2 separate regions of the Homo sapiens genome follow, and region 1 is linked to region 2. The links come from fine-mapping of genetic effects on gene expression. Tissue or cell type: esophagus mucosa. Region 2 holds a variant in brackets; the other region holds the start of a gene. All regions are shown on one strand. Distances are between the middles of the regions.

What was found. PIP is the estimated chance that this variant, and not a neighbour inherited with it, causes the effect.
Region 1: it holds the start of KLHL29, and the variant in region 2 is fine-mapped to the expression of KLHL29 in esophagus mucosa (GTEx, PIP 0.98).

The regions. Positions count from the first base shown.
Region 1 is chr2:23,381,513-23,389,615 of GRCh38, reverse strand. KLHL29 (kelch like family member 29) reads right to left here and starts at 4,437. Exons shown (of 14, transcript NM_052920.2): 1 at 3,836-4,437. It overlaps LINC02923 (long intergenic non-protein coding RNA 2923), which reads left to right and starts at 2,298. Exons shown (of 6, transcript NR_187213.1): 1 at 2,298-8,103. RefSeq lists silencers at 2,551-2,600, 2,771-2,940, 2,961-3,080, 3,321-4,180, 4,351-4,700 and 1 more and an enhancer at 6,204-6,498.
Region 2 is chr2:23,559,710-23,567,812 of GRCh38, reverse strand. It overlaps KLHL29 (kelch like family member 29), which reads right to left. Exons shown (of 14, transcript NM_052920.2): 3 at 5,332-5,661. The coding sequence starts at 5,616. Among named protein-coding and RNA genes, the nearest start is that of LINC02923, 180 kb to the right of the region's middle. RefSeq lists a silencer at 3,419-3,780. The variant C/T (reference allele first, on the strand shown) is at 3,416.

The DNA of each region.
Region 1 (8,103 bases), 180 kb after region 2:
TCCAGCAGTCCTCCCATCCACTAACACATTTCTTGTTCTCCAGTCCTCTTACACAGTAACTGCCTTGGTTTATCCTCATTCAGCACAACTAAAGGCTGGATTTCTTATTCATGATGTTTCTTCCTCCTCCTATCCCCAAGTAGGCACTTAGTTGACTGATTACAGAATCACAAAGTTGGTTATAATTCCATTTCTTCATCTGACTTTGAACTTAAGTGTTCCAATTACTTTGCCTGATCCTAATAAGTCAGTAGCGTGCTAATGCTTGCCTTGATATTTCTGAAATATACAGGGTTGTGATTAGCATGGGATTGCATCATTAGAAAGCTAAGTTGAAAGTGGGTGAGCAAAATCATCACTCGCATTTAAGTAAAACTGCCTGTTCAGTGGACTTACAATGTTACTATGATCCTAGGGGCACTATATGCTGTGACTAAATATATATTGTATTTGGAAAATCCTCTGCTGTTCTGAAAACTTCTGGCTTTGACCACTACTAGAAAAGACCCCAGGACAGACCTGCTCTAATATAGTCTCGAAGTCTCTCCAAGCCAGATACAACCGATGACACAAAGAATGCCTAAGCCATAACAGTACTGGGATTTTAAAAAAAAAAAAAAAAAAAAGAAGAAGAAAGAAAGAAAAAAAGGAAGGAAGCAAAAAGGAGGAAGGAAGGAAAAACTTTAGTTAGTTCTGCTGGACTGAATTGATGTCTCCCAGCCAAAAAGTGAGAAAGCTTTACAGTAAGCCTGCTGAAAGAAAGAAAAAAAAAACCCATGTACACATACATATCAAATGAGATGCCAAAAAATGACATTAGTATTAGGGGTGCCATTTGAGTTGATGAAAAAAAATTAACTCCTTTATATCTGTATGTAGCTGGGAATAGTGTAGGCTTTTAGAAACTAGCAGGAAAAAAGAAGGAGATACTTTAAACTAGGAATGGTTTGTAGCCAAATCAATTGATAAAAGAAGGAAAAAGATGGCACAACTAAAATTGATGCCAAAGATTTATAAGGTTGACTAAATAAAAATGAATGGATCACCATGGAAATGCATGAATACTGAAATAGGCAAGATTTGAATAGACTAATGATGTGCCTCACTTAAACTGACAGGTGTTGATAACAACGGTGACACTCAATCCACACCAACCGCCACACTTCCAACATGTTTATTCCTAGAAAACAGGCTGGATTTAGAGGTTCCTTTGGTAATAGTTTATAAGCAAAATGCATTTTCCGGTCTTAAAGTGACTGACTCAATGCTCATCTACTGGAAAAACAAAAAAAAGGTTTTTATCCATTTTGTTCCTAGATATGAGGAGCTGCAGTTAGCAAAAGTCATTCTCCTGGGCTCTACTAGTCTTTGTTTCAATAAACCTCCCACAAACCTGAATTCTCAGTCTTGCTTGTCTCCCACACTGAGTACTTGAAGTATGACCACCACTCATTAGAAACATAATTAAAAAGACACAACACTAGATCCCCACCCCCCATCACATTCAGATGAAAACCAATAACCCTTAATCTATTTGTTACCATGGCTACCATAGGATATTTTATTTCAGTAAAACTCTAGGTATTTCGTTTGGATTGCTGCTTGCAAATGAAAGTTGGAGACCTATAAATTTCCATAACCGAGAGACCGAGGAGAAGAAAATGTTTTTCTTAATCACAGGCAAATATGGTTTATAAGATGTTTGTGCAGAAAAGTTATTAAAATTGGTTAGATGCATCAGCCCATAAACCAATTTAAATGCCATTAAATTCATATAGAGTTTAAAAGGCACATGTGCTAGTAATTCCCTGATTTATAGCAGGGTGATAAATCAAGTGCACTCCAGCACAATGTATGGGACGGAGACTATTCATCAGTAGCACACAGCTCCATACCTGTATAAACACCTAGATTATGGACTAATCAAATACACGCATGCCAACCAGCCTTTAAAGTATTCACTAGTGCTTACTGGACATGTTTTCTCTAAGTGTCGGAAAGAACAATCTATAAAATTGTTCATTCTCCTCCCTCACAAAAAAATTAAAAAGCTCTATACCTTCTTTCCATAATAATAATAATAATAATAATAATAATAATAATAATAATAAATCAGGAATGAGGTGGGACAAGTCTGCTGTCATTCATCTGAAAATGAAGCAATTCCTCAAATCTGCCCTCCCAGGGCTGAGTTAGTGATAAGACCACACGGCGAGGAAGAAACTCTGTAGTGACTAGACAGATGACTTTAAAGAGACTGAAACTAGTATAAATACAGCCGTAACCAGGACAGATCTGTCATTGCAAGAGGAGTCCGAATCCCAGCGTTGCTGGACTGGAGAGAGGCTGGAACCTGCAGCAGCGGGCCGGGATGCCGCTGAGCTGCCGAAGTGGAAGTTTCGCAGGCAGCAGCAGCTCGGCGTCCTCCACGGTCTGGTCCCTCCAGCGCCGAGGTCTCGCCTAATGCTACATAAATACCTGCGTCCACGATTCGCCCGGGGCGCGCCGCGGCGCAAGCACGGGAGGGAGGGAGGAGAACGTTTGCAGAGCGGCGGGGATGGCAGCGGCGGCGGCGGCAGCTCCTTACCCATCAGCATCTCTGGGGGCCCGCGCGAGGGCCCGCCAACGGACCGCGTCTGCCGCTTGGTTCCACAGCCCAGGGACGACAACTGGCTTCTCAGCGGGTGGACCCAGGCATCCGAGACTCGCGCGTGGCCGCCACCCCCTCCTCCGAGACGGCTGGCCGCAGGCAGGCAGCGCGTCCCCGCCTTCCCCAGGCAACGCAGAGGCGACCTGCCCTAAGAGCCACCTCCGACCTACCCCGGCTCCCAGCCCCGCGCTCCGGCCCCAGGCGAGCACGTCCCTCCCTTGGGGCCCGGGGCCGACGCTGCCCAGCGCGGGCACCCGCGCGGCGACCGCAGATAACCCTAGCGCTCTCAGCCCGCTCCAGGCCACGGAGACCGGGACGCGAGCCCTGGGCTCCCCCGGCCCCCCGAGGCCATCGGGGCGCGCGTTCACACTCCCACACTACACATCTCCAGGTCCACCCTGTCCCACACATCAACAACCCCTCCCCAACGACACCACCTCCTGGCCGCTTCGCCGTCCCCGTGAGCTCTCCTTTCCGCGTCCCCCCACAACACGCTGGCACCCACAAGGTGTCAAGGGAAGTGTGCGTGTGTGTGTCGGGGTGGGGTGGGTCACAATAAGGTCTGTGCGGGTTCCCTCCCGACGGTTTTCGAGCTCATCTACCTCGAAAGTTACTTGGGATTGAGTAAAGAGACCCAGTCCCCAAATGCGAGATCAGAGGACGCGAGGGGCAGAAAACCCCAACCTGGCTTCTCGCTGCACAGAGGCGCGCACCTCCCCAAAGGACAGTGCGCGCGGCCGCCCCTGGGGGCCAGCCCTCCGTCGCCTCCAGGTCTCCTGCCCGGCCGGGGCCCTGGGCCGCTCAGGGGAACGTGGCCTGGAGAGGGGCGCGCGCCGCCGGGCCCAGCAGGGGGGCTGCTCCGGCCAGGGGTCACACAAGCCTCCAGCACCTCCGAACACCGTGACAGTGGCCCCAGGCAGCCCCGGTGCATACACACCCGGGGGCAGGAAGTTTTTTCCCCCCCTTTTTTTCCCCCTGGAGCAGCGCAGGCGCAAGGGCTCCTGCAGCCTGCGAGTCCAGACGCGGGAGGCTCCTGTCGCCGCCGCCGCCGCCGAAGCCGAGCCCAGGGTTCCGGGTTCCGGCCCCGCTCCCACGCCCGGCCCGGCCCGGCCCCACGCGGCGGCCAGGACCTGGGTCTCCCTCCGGCGCCGCATCCGAGGCGCTCCAGCCCGGCCCGGCTCTTACCTCCGGCGCGCGGCTCCGGCCCCGGCCCGACGCGCAGAGAGCCCGGGGTCGCGGGTGGGCGCAGGAGGGCTGATGGAGAGCGGACAGCGCCGGCGGGTAGCGGTGGCTGGGGCCGCTCGGGTCCTGGCCGGAGGAAACGGATCCAGGTCCTCCTCCTCGCGTTCCTGCTCTCCGCCTTCTCCCCTCGTTCCTCCTCCTCCTCCGCCGCCGCCGCCTCCCGGCAGCCCAGGGAGGATGCCCGGGAGAGGGAAGTCGGTCCTCCTGCCTGTCAGCCTGTGCGGCTATGAGCGGTGCGGCGCGGCTCTCATCGAGGCGGCGGCGGCGGCGGCGGCTCCGGCAGCATCGCCCCCGCCCTCTCCCCGCAGCCGCGGCGGCCGCGGGGCTGGGGCTGGCTCCGGGCTCGCGGCTCGGGCTCCGGGCGGGGGCTGCGCTCAAGCGCGGCGACCGCCGGGGCTGCGGACGGGCGCTGCGGAGCCGGGGCCGGGGCTGGAGCTGCGGCGAGATCCGCGGTGGCGGGGACGGCGGCGGCGGCGCGGGGGCTGGCGCGGCCGCGGCGCGGGGACCATGCTCCCTTCTGGCTCGCTCCGCTCCGGGTACCGTCTGCTTTAGCTGCGAGGGAGGCGGGCTTCGGCGCGCAGCCAGGGGCGGGCGGAGCCAATCACGGGCGCCCGAGTGGGCGGGGGTGGCGGGTGGGGGAGGCGGGGCCCTCTGGCCCGGCCCGGCCAGGCCGGGCCCCGTGCGCAGTTTCCCCGGCCCGAGGGATTCCCGGCTGCCGCGCGCCGGGTCCGAGGTTGGAGTGCTCGCGGGTGTGTCCGTCGGTCCGTCCGTCCGCCGCCCCCGCCCCCCGCGGTGGCCCCCGGCTCGCCTGGCTCCGCGGCCGCGCCCGGCAGACGCACGGCGCGTGGCACGGGCTGCTCCGCCGTGGCCTCCTGGCCTTGCTGGCCCAGGGTTGGGGGCCCGGGACTGAGGCGAGCTCCCCGTCTGCTCTCAACACCTGAGGAAACTGGCGGAAAAGTTTGAGAAGGAAAAAGTCCAATCGTCTTTCAGCTTCCGCCCTCTTTATGACACTCCAGCCTTGGAAAGGAGCAGGAATTGTCCACACCTCTGAAGGACCAGGGAGAGCCCTGCAAAGTGTCCACCAGCCTTCTGAGTCAGCCCTGCCTCTCCTGGGGCGCGCGACTTTTCTGTTCATACTGACCCTTAGGAATCCAGGAAGCCTTCTCTGTTTAACAGCCTGACCAGCCTTTGATGTCTATACCGACTACTCACCCCCACCACAGCTCGCTCTCTCTCACACTGTCTACACTGACTTCTCAGTCCCACCACCTCTCGGTCTACACATGCTGTCTACACAGACCCTAACTTCTAACCCTAATAGAAGAGATTTGGCCAGAGGCGTGTGGGACCCCCAATGAGGGCTTTTCCATTATGCTAGAATATTTCACTCTGGGCACAGTCTTCTCCACCCCGACCGCTCTCCTAATCTGGTTTTTATTCCCCGACCTCTCCCTCCTCCCCTACATCCCCTTTACCTGGTTTTGAGTTTCAGAGGAAATATCTGTACCTGCCCTCCTCCTCCACCCCTGTCTGAATGTAAAGGCCTGAGGGCCCAATCCTCATCCTCCACCCTCCCTCCGCTCCCCCGGGTAAAGGCCTGAGGCCTGAGGCCTTGCTAGAAATTGGAGTTGGGGTGCTGTAGGTAGTGTGGGGAGCTGGCTGTGGGGGCCCAGCTGGGAGGAGCTGGCCTGGGGAGGGCTTTGCCAGTCCTTGCCTCCATCTACCAGGGCCAAGGAGGACTGAGCCGGTAAATATTTTCTTCTCAGCTCCCCCCCTGTGATGTCTGATCCAGGCCTCTGCTCTCCTTGGCTGTAAACTCAGCGCACGGATTGTGTCTTCTTTAATATTTTGTAGGAAGCAGAGTACAGTGTCGTGGCTGATAAATAATAAATAATAATAATCTACTGAGGGTAGCAGGAGCACTGTCAGAAATGGAATGAGGACGCCGGGGAAATGGCCCACTAGTGTCAGAATAACTGCATTTCCTGGAAAAAACATCCAACAGAGTTTGTGTGTGTGAAGCCCGGGACTCAAGGGAGGGGACAGAGCGGAGCACTTCAGGGAGGAAGCCACCCTTCATGAGGACGACAGCCAGGAAAACTGGCGTGACCTTAAGAGAGGGTGACAGAGGTGCCGAAAAGGGGAGCAGGAGTGGGGGGGAGGGGGAGAAAAGCTCCCCAAGGGTCCTCAGACAACACCTGAAGGTGATCGATAGCTTTGGTTTGAGTACTATGTCCTTCAAATGGTATATGAAAAGTGATAGAAGAGTACTAGATAGCAAAATGGAAAAAAGAGGGATTTCTTGGGATTTCAAATTGATACACAGGTCAACCCAATGCAAAAAGAAGGAGAACAAAGCCACAGGCGTGTGTCTGTTCATCCACGCTGTAGGAAGCTGTCCTCTGAGATAATCTCCATGGATGCACTGACTGTGAACATGCAGAAGTCCACCCAGCCGTATTCTGGAGTAGCGCCCTATGTGACAGCTGTAGGCACTACAGAAATGTGGCCAAGGTTTGCAGGGTCTGGGATAGGTTAAGATCTGGCAATGTGAGGCACTCACAGTGTCTTACAGATGATTTTGAATGATCCTCAGTTGAAAGAAGAAAATAGGAACTCCAAGAATCCTTATTCAGCTACCTCTCCAGATGAAGGAGAAAGGATGCTCCCAATTTCCCTGCTGGCAGCATCAGAAAAGAGAGCTGTGCTGAGGTCTTATCCAGAGGAGGACCTACTCGGGCCATGGTGGTGCGAAGGGCGCTGGTTCTGGGGCACCGCAAACTCTTCAGGGCTGAAGTTTGGTAACAGCTCACCAGGGGAGCCAGCTTGTCAGGGAGAATGAGAAAAGCTGTGTGAATTAGACTCCCAGTGGGCTTGTCTACCCTGTCCTCACCCATCCTCGTTTTATCCAAGGCTTCCTCGTCATTGATGCTCTGCCCTGCTGGGAGCTGTTTAGTGTGGACACAGCCATTTATGAAGGGTCTGCGCTGGTCTGCATATGAGTTCCATTTCAGAGTGCTGTTGTTCACATGATCTGTCCCAGCGCATCTAGTGTCTTGGCAACATAAACTGGATTTGCATTGTGTCAGGGGTCTCCTCTCTCTCTCTCTCTACGTAGATCTTGCTGGTGTCTGGGATCTTTTTTGGGTCATTCTTTGCTCTACTCTGTGGCCCATGGGATGGGCCCCATGACTGGCATGGATCTCTCTGTGTGGTTCATGGGACTCGTGTGTTGTGCCCAGAAACCTCTTACACCATGGTCAAAGATTTCTCCATGAAACACAGGATTGACTTGGTGGTGTGTTCTCCAAAAGCCAACCCTCCCTGTCCTGAGCCCCAATCTGGGCACTGGGATCAGGACTAATGTGTACACTCCAAGCAGATGGGTAGTGAAGGAGCGGACTCATAGTGCATAGGGAAGTGGACTGGAACACTCCAGGACATCCATTCCCCGCTCAGATCATAGACCATTATCTGTGCAGTCAATCAGACAAGGACTTGTACTGGAAAGGCCACCATCACCCAAGGAGGAACCAGAGGAAGTCACATCAGGAACACCTGGGGTGCCACATAAACCCACAGTGGCCAAGGTGGACTTCTGTCCTTGTCTGTGTTTATGATAATAGCCACAACAAAAGGACCTTTACCCAGTGGCTACTATATGTCAGGCACTGTACCAAGAACTCTACCCATGATATCTTGTTAATCCTCACAGCAACCTGTGGAATTGGTGTTATCAGCCCCCAAAACTGAGTTCCAGAGAGGGTAGATGAGAACCTGCAATCACACAGTAAGTGACAGTGCTGGAATTTCAGCCTGATTGTCCCAAAGCCTCTGTTCTTTTTACCCCACCAAACACACAAATGCAGTTTCTTTTGTCATTAGCCCAGTGCTTTTCCCTTGGAGTAGATACAGTAGATGCTGATTTTTGCCTTCATCAGCAAAAGTCTTTACCCCAGACACATAACTGGAGATCAGTCATAGAACAGAGAGCACTAATGTAGAAGGGCACAGGTCCCTTTGATTACTGAACACTCAGGTCACTCGGAAGAGTGGAAGCCTCATCAGAAACCTTCGGGTTTGACAGGACATCTGTTTCCAGGAGCACGGTGGGTGTAAACAGAGCAGCTGCCAGCCTCTGTCCTGGTTGGGGTTTTGTGTTTGCTGGTTTTTCTTTTTTTTTTTTTTTAAACACATTATACTCTATTAAA
Region 2 (8,103 bases):
ACGGTGAAAGGGGCTTGAATGATTCTCCCAACTGAGCCCACTCGGCAAGGCAGCCTTCGATTTTCAATGTGAATACAAGAGGAATGAGAGTTCTGTGCAAAAGCATCCTCTCTCCATTCATGGGCCCCAGAAGCACACAACAGGAGGGGCTGCCACATTGGCCCTGCGGTCACTCACATGATCCCCACGGAAATCCCAGATCATCTCCCCCAAGGGGAGCATTCCTCCAGAGAAGCTGGAGCGCATGGGGAAGATATCATCTCCAGCGTTGTCTCTATGATGACACATATCCACCCCGATAGCCCTAAATGCTCATAAATGTCAAAACCCGGGTGTTTTGAGTGTTGACGATGAAGCCTGCAGATTTCATAGCCCCTTTTGGTTCTTCTCGGGCCTCCGACACAGGCGAAGTCGCTCTGCTTCCCAGCTAGATTTATTTTCAAGGGCTTAGCTCTGAGGGACGATGGGAATGTTTCAGCATGAGTGCTCCTGACCACTAGGAAAAAAAGCTCCCAGTACATTTCACAGACATCAGCGAGGATTCTGCAGAGTCCATTCTTTCAGGAACAAAATTGCATTTTATGAAGCCGTCCCTTTTCTGTTTCATCTGTCAAGCAGGTTTGCTGAGAATAATTTAAATTTCATGCAGCAGCAACTGTGGGGCACTGGGGCTTCCCTTCAGGCCCACAAACAGGCCTGGCAGTGGAGTCGCAGTTCTGCTTCTCAGGAGCACCCTGCCCCTGCGGTCCTGACCATTTACAGCCCAGACACACAGTGGTGGGCCAGGGATGGGATGCCATCCCAGTTCCTTAGCATGACCTCATGCCACATCAGACAGGGGATGGGGACAGGCCAATGCACCTTTCTTCAGCCTCCAGCACCAACCACCAGGGGGGGACAGGTTTCCCCGCAAATGTATGAATAACTGGGTAGACCCAGTCAATGGTTTATCTTTCTAAAATTAACTTTTATCGAGTGCTTACCAAATGGCAGGTAGTGTTTTAAGCTTTTCTATGCATATTAATTTAACCAGTTCTCACATCATCCCCATGAGGAGGATTCTATGATTATTCCCAATTCTTAGAGACAAAGAAACTGAGGTTCAGAGACATACTCAGCTTCTAAGTGGCGGAGCTAGGATTCAATCCCAGTGCTGTCAGACTCAAAAGCTTGAAGCTCTTAGCAGTGGTGAAATGCTGAGTTGACATAACCTTTGGCTTAAATTTTCTCACCTATACCACAGAGGTAAATGTGCCCACTTTCTGGCCTGAAATCTCTTGCTTGCTATCAGCTGGGTGGATGAGCAGATGGAAAAGTTACCATAACAATGCTGCAATCATGGTTACCATGGTGAATGCTCTACCAGGCAGCCTGGAGTGGGAAGAGGAGCTGGCCCAGGCTGGTTCTGATTCTAACTCACTGGGTGACCTTGGCAGGCCACATTTTCTTTGGGCCTCACTACTGTGACCTGTAGAATGAGGGGCTGGAGGACGTGGTCACTCTGCTCCTGTTAGGCTCTTGGAACTTGTGTCCTGGGGAGGCTGCTGATTGGTCTGAGCCATGAGTGTGTGTTGCGGGGCTGGGGGAGCCCACCAGACCCTCCCTGTACTTCAGCAGCCCAGGAGTCTGCTTGTCCAACTGGCCTTTCCTCAAGACACGTGAGGAATCTTTAGGCCACAGACAAATGAAGAAGTAGAAAAACCAACTCAGGCCTGAAGGCAGCAGTGACAGAAAGAATTGTCATCACCTCACCGGCCAGCTGCTGGGAGCACAGCCAGCCTCCTCACCCAAAGAGCCTGGCAGAAGCCGGCCCCTGCCTGGGAAGGTGACCAGGCCCACAGGGCTGGGTGGGGAGGGTGATGGCATGGGATGCCCCAGCCCCCAGGGCACGTGATGTTCACCCTGCGCACTGCCTAGCCAAGAGGGGACACTAAGGCCTCACAGTACTGACACTAGTCCCCCAGTCACTTTCCTCAGGGACAGTTGCTGAGTTTCCGAGGGTGGCTCTGGTCCACATGTGGCTCTAGACCCTTCACCCAGGAAGCCCGGTGGATACATTCCAGCAGCTGTCCCCACACTCTGGTGAGCTCGGACACAGCTCTGCTCCTGGCTTCTACCCGGCCAACCTCGCCCACCCACCCCACCATCCACTGGAGTGCAGTTTCAGCTGTTTCCACAATGGGCTTTCCCTAGAGGAAAGGGCGCCACAGCTGAAAAAAGCTTTAAACTCCCTTCCCTTGGTCACCTGGCTGTTACCAGTCTCGGTCTGGAGCCCGCTAGACGGCCTCTTCCCCCCAGCTCCCTCTTGCCTACGGAGCATCTGGAGTCCCAGCCAAGGGGTAGGTTTGAGATGCTCTTTCCTTTCCTTGCTTTCTTGGGGCCTGGCTGCTGTGTCTTATCTGAAGACCTGCCTTTTCCTCTTGGTGAGGTTAGAAAGGAACACCTTTCAGGCTGGGCACGGCGATTCACGTCTGTAATCCCAGCACTTTGGGATGCCAAGGTGGGTGGATCACTTGAGGTCAGGAGTTCAAGACCAGCCTGGCCAACATGGTGAAACCCCATCTCTACTGAAGAAGAAAAAAAAAGGACATGAACACCTTTCCCTAAGAGGGTAGAGCCTTGTCCCATAGGCCTCACCTGGATGACAGTGACAGCGGTGATAGGAGGAGGTCAGCACCAATATGAGACTCGAAATACCACATGCCAGGTTCTGTCTTGTTCTGAGCACTTCACACAGGTTTTAACCCACACAGTCCTCACAACAACTCTGCTCGCAAGTACAACGACCTCTTCCCATTTTACAGAAGTGACGCCCAGAGAGGTTAGGTAACCTGTCCAGGGTCACTCAGATAGCAAGCGGTAGAAGGGAATTCAAATCCAGGCAGTCTGTCTCCAAAGTCTGGCTGTAGCCACTGCACTAGGCCTCCCCTGCCAATAACTTCAGGGGGAGAGACATTCTTGGGTCATCTGGTCACACTGTCCAGGCCACAGATTTGTTATACACAAGGAGCCGTGAGCTCCCCGAGGGCAAGAGCCAGCCAGCTCTTGCCTGCTCAGTAAAGACCCACATTGTTGACCGGGGAAACCGCAAATACCTGGGCCCGGGCCTGCCCATCAGTTGATGTGGTCTTGGCACGGGGTCAGACACATAGGCTAGGGGACAGGCCTCTGGGTGGGCAGGAGCCAGGCTAGAACGGCGGGAAGGCACTGTGGCCCAAATCTGCCAGGGGTGCTCGGGAAGCCAGCACTGCTGTCCTCCCTTCCCCCCACCCAGTGCTCCTGGGCACCAAGGGACCAGGGCTTAATCCGGGGAATCAAACAAGCCCCTGCAGGAAACAGGCCGGGCTGGAGGCAGAATTCAGTTCCTCTGTTGTGACATGCCAAGGAGCGGGCTGTCCTCACAGGAATGAACTTT[C/T]GCCCCCTCTCCCCCTCCTGGCCACCCTGCCCAGTCCTTGCCCCAGCTGTTGTTTTCTGTCTGAGACTGGGTTCCCTTCCTCTCATGTGGCTGTGGTTTGGGATCAGGCCAGTCAAGGATGGTGAATATCAAGCCACTCTGGAGCAAAGCGGGAGCTCTGCAGGCAGCACAGCCCTGTGGGGGAGCCCCAGCACCGAGCCCCTCCACTTCATCCCCCAGAGCAGCCCAACACCATCCCTACAAAGGCATGTATCCTTAAAAGGACAGACACTTTCAAGACGGCCTCCGGGCCCAGCCTCTCTCTCCCACCTGGAGCCCCGAGCAGTCGGTTCCAGCGGCTGCCATTCTCCATATGGCCAACAGCTGGCCCTGCAGAGCGCCTGCCAGATGTGGCCAGCAGGTCCAGCGGCTGGCCCTACTGGGCAGAGGTCACTGAGTCAGACCAGCGCTCGGGCTGGCGCCCAGGGGAGGAATGTGTTTGGCTGGCCTGGGGGCAGCGTGCCCAAATAATCCTCCATCTCCTCTCCCCTGTCCAACATTCTTTCCCTCCCCGCCTCAGTGGGGTGGTGTTTTCATAACAGGAAAATAAAATCAATAAGGCACTGCAGCAAGATGTCAGTGCGCTCCGAGCCAGCCTCCAATAGCTCCATTGTCTCAGCCTCTGCCAGGCTCTGTGGCCGGCAACACTCACAGTTATTAATGGGAAGCAGGGCTGAAAGGGAGTTTTGAAAACCAGGAGACAAAGGCGCAGCACACCTGGAGCGCGGCTTTCCAGCACCACAGCCACCTCACAATGGCCGGGCTGGGGCTCCCCGCCTTTAACTTCTCTGGCAACTTTTCTGAAAGCAGGAAAAGAAAAGCCTAGACACACACACATGTGCACACACATACACTCATGCACACACACACGCATGCAGGCACATACACGCATGTACACGGACACTGCCCCAAGGGGGCTCCTGGGAGGCAGCTCCGAATGGCCAGCAGAGGCAAAGGCAGCCTGCACAGCCCCTGCTCGGTGAGGAAGCAGGATGGGGACCGATGGCCTTCCTACCACAGCCATGGCCAGGGGCCCGGCCCTCCAGGACTCAGGCTGCCTGAGGGGCTCCGAGCAGCCAGCACGATGGAGGACGAGCTCAGCCCAAGGCCAAGCAAGAGCCTTGGCAACACTGTTTTCCACATTCCATTCAGCAACACAGGTTGGCCTCTGTTGCCATTCCCAAGGCTGGAGCCACCTCTTCTGAAAGAAACGGGAATGACCTGGCGCTGACATCCCTGAAGCCAGCTGTGGGGACAAGTCCTGGGTCCTCTGCAGAAAGGTCCCACAGCCTTGGACCAGCCCTTAGAAGGCCTACTGAGCCCTTGCTGTGCCTCAGTGTCCTCAACTGTAAGGCAGGGATGATAAAAGTACTGACCTCACCGTGCTGTGGCAAGGCTCAGAAGAGACAACGGATATGAGAACACGAGGCCCAGTGGTTAATAAAGTGTGGGTTTATCACCCTTTATGACTGTTACTGCTTGTCAGTATCTTCTTGCACACCCAAGTTACTGGCACCCCCAGGGATGCTTGCATGGTCTCAATTTATCTATTTAGGAACCCCATATTGCCATCTTGGAGGTCCACTGTTACTTCACTCATTAATAGCATCTAATCAACATGGCATAGGACAATGAGTGGCCTCAGCACCTGCTTGTCTTCCTACAAGTTAGTCACAGAGAAAGACTTCATGGATAATAAAACCCGCATGAATGCTCGCAAACAGTTTCCAGGCCCAGGTCCTGGAAGGACAAGACTCTGGAGGACTCGGGGCGTGGAGCACAGGCTGCCCCACAGGAGCCTGTGGGGCTGGCCTGAGCCTGCAGGGAGGCAGGGCCCCTCTGTCCGGCTCCTGCTCAGAGATGACACCACATCTTACCTTGGTGGTGACCGCAGACGCAGAGCTGGCCACGAGGCTGGTGATGGCCTCGCTGCTGCCGGTGGTGCAGGGAGCAGGAGCTGTAGCCGGGGTGGGCAGCCGGGAGGGCACCACGGGCAGCGGCAGGAGGCCGGGCCGGACGCTGAGGCTGCTGGCTGTGCCGCCACCGGCCCCCGAGGTGACACTGCAGATGCTGGTGGTCCCATGCGTCCCGTTGACGCTCCATTCGCGGCGGTCCCAGCCCACCCGGTAATCTCTTTCGAAGCGGCTATGGTGCCGGGACATCTCGGTGGGCCGAGGCGGCTTCTCACAGGGAAACAGAGCCCGGACCTGTGGTGACAGGGTGGAGAGAAGGGTGATTTAGGACTGGAGCAGGCAGCGACAACTGACAGCATCCATGAAGCCCCTTCTCTGGGTTCAATAACAGGCCTTCAAACATTAGCTCATTTCAGAGTCACGCTAGCCCACAAAGCATGGATCATTAATTAGCCCCACTTCACAGACAAGGAATACACAATTTGCCCAGGATCACGTGGCCAAAGTAAGTAGGCAGGATTTGAACCCAGTCACAGTTAAAAGTGATACTGTTTGTTCTGCCACATCTCACTGCCCTGAATGACACAAATGTGCATATTTTAATTATGGATGGGACTTTATCCCCTCCCACCCCACCGTGAAAAAAGAGCCGTGAACTCCTCAGGACGTGTTTTCCTCCAACACGTGATAGGATGCGGCCACCCACGTGTGCAGACTCACTTTATAGTGGACAAAGCCCTTTACATAAATCTCTCTTCCTCCTACAGTAGCCTGTGAGGCGGCAGGGCATGGATGGTTCCCAGTTGAGGGTCGAGGGACCTCACTGAGAATAAGTTATCCCTTGAGGTTCGAGTACTAGAAAGTGATAAAGAGTCCAGGATCCCCAGCCTTTAGATCCTAGCTAAATGCACAACTCAAGTCGCAAAGGGTGTTAGCCTCCAGGAGTTGAGTTCCCTTTCATAATCACAGCCCTATGATTTGATCTCGGGCGGCATCAGAGACCCGGAGTACCCTGGCCTCTGTTAACCAGACTATCTCCCACACAGCTCTCCTGAGCCTCTGAGCATAAGGCCCTTCCATGTTGTCATGGAGACCTGGACACACCATGATACTTGGAAGGGCTTCTGAATCACCAAAGATTGCATTTTGCTCAGTATTACCATGACTTGCCTGGTTCCCTGCCCATCCAGGGCCTGGTGTTACTCTCGGTCAAGAACGCTGTAAAGACGCAGGGGAAGCTGTCGGTCTCAGAGGCCATGGAGAGGCAGAGACAGAGGGGAGAGGGCATGGCAGTGCCAGGGCACAAGTGGTGGTGGGTTAGGGTAGGGGTCTGCATCACACCCACAGCCCTGGGCATGGCTCAGGCACAGCTTGGTTGCCTTTGGCCTTTTCCATTCTCCAACTGTTTTCCAGTCTGGGGGTGAGTCCCCGGAGGTCCGGGTTCCCAGCTCCTTTTCCTATCCTGCCAGTCCAGCTCAGCCCTGGGGAGGCACCCTGGAATTGTTGGCCAGTGGACAGACGGGCCACTTTATTTTAAAAATATCTATCTATAAAGCCTGTTCTTACTGCAGACTTTGCACATCCAGACCTAGTTGTCAACTTCTAGTGCCATGGAGCCAGGGCCTGTGCCCAACCCAAGCAGCCTCCTACCCATGTTCTACTTGCATGCTGGCCTGTGCCCTGGTGGCCATCATCCCCTCTGCCAGGCACACTGGGCAGACCTGAACCCACCCTGCAGCCCAGGTGAAGCCTGCAGCCCCGCCTGAAACAGAGCTGACCATAACTTCTTCAGCTGGATGTGGTGTCACTGTTTATTTCACCATTATGCTTTCTGGCTTACACCATGACACAAAAATTCTTTTTAAAAAGTCTATCCAGGCTGGATGCAGTGGCCTACACCTGTAATCCTAGCACTTTGGGAGGCCAAGGCAGGCGGATCACAAGGGCAAGAGATCCAGACCATCTTGGCCAACACAGTGAAACCCCATCTCTACTAAAAACACTAAAATTAGTTGGGAGTGGCAGCACGTGCCTGTAGTCCCAGCTACTCAGGAGGCTGAGGCAGGAGAATCACTTGAACTTGGGAGGCAGAGGTTGCAGTGAGCTGAGATCGCGATATTGCACTCCAGCCTGTCAACAGAGCAAGACTCCGTCTCAAAAAAAAAAAAAAAAAAAAAAAAAAGCCTATCCAATATTACATGGTTAAAAAATAAAAATCCATTCCCTTTTGATCTCCCCACATAAACTTTTTCGGCTGAACTTCTTGATGGCATTGTCTAAACTTAGCTCCAGTTTCCTCGTCCTGTTCACTCTGTGACCTGCTCCGCTGTGGCCTTCGCCCTGGCCACTCCATGGGAACTGTTCTCATTGAAGTCATGGGTGACCTACTCGCTAAATCCAAGGGGACATTTATGCCGCTGTCCTCAACTTCCCTCACTTGCGACGTGGCTGATCTTCCTTGCTTTCCGGAACCCTCCTCTGCAGTTTCTGTGATGCCAGCCCTCTCCCAGCCCTCCGCCTCCCTCTCGGCTGCTCCTTCTCAGTCTCCTTGGCGGGCTCCTCTTCCTCAGCTCATTCTTAAAAAGCTGGGGCTCCTCCGGGTTCCAGATCTCCTCCTCCTCTTCTCCCCGGATGATCTCATCCCTCCATCCCCTCTTTCTGGATAACTCCCAAGGCTACCTTTGCAGCTCTCCTCTCTCTTAAGCACCACCCCCACCTCCCTGCAGCCTGCCGCAC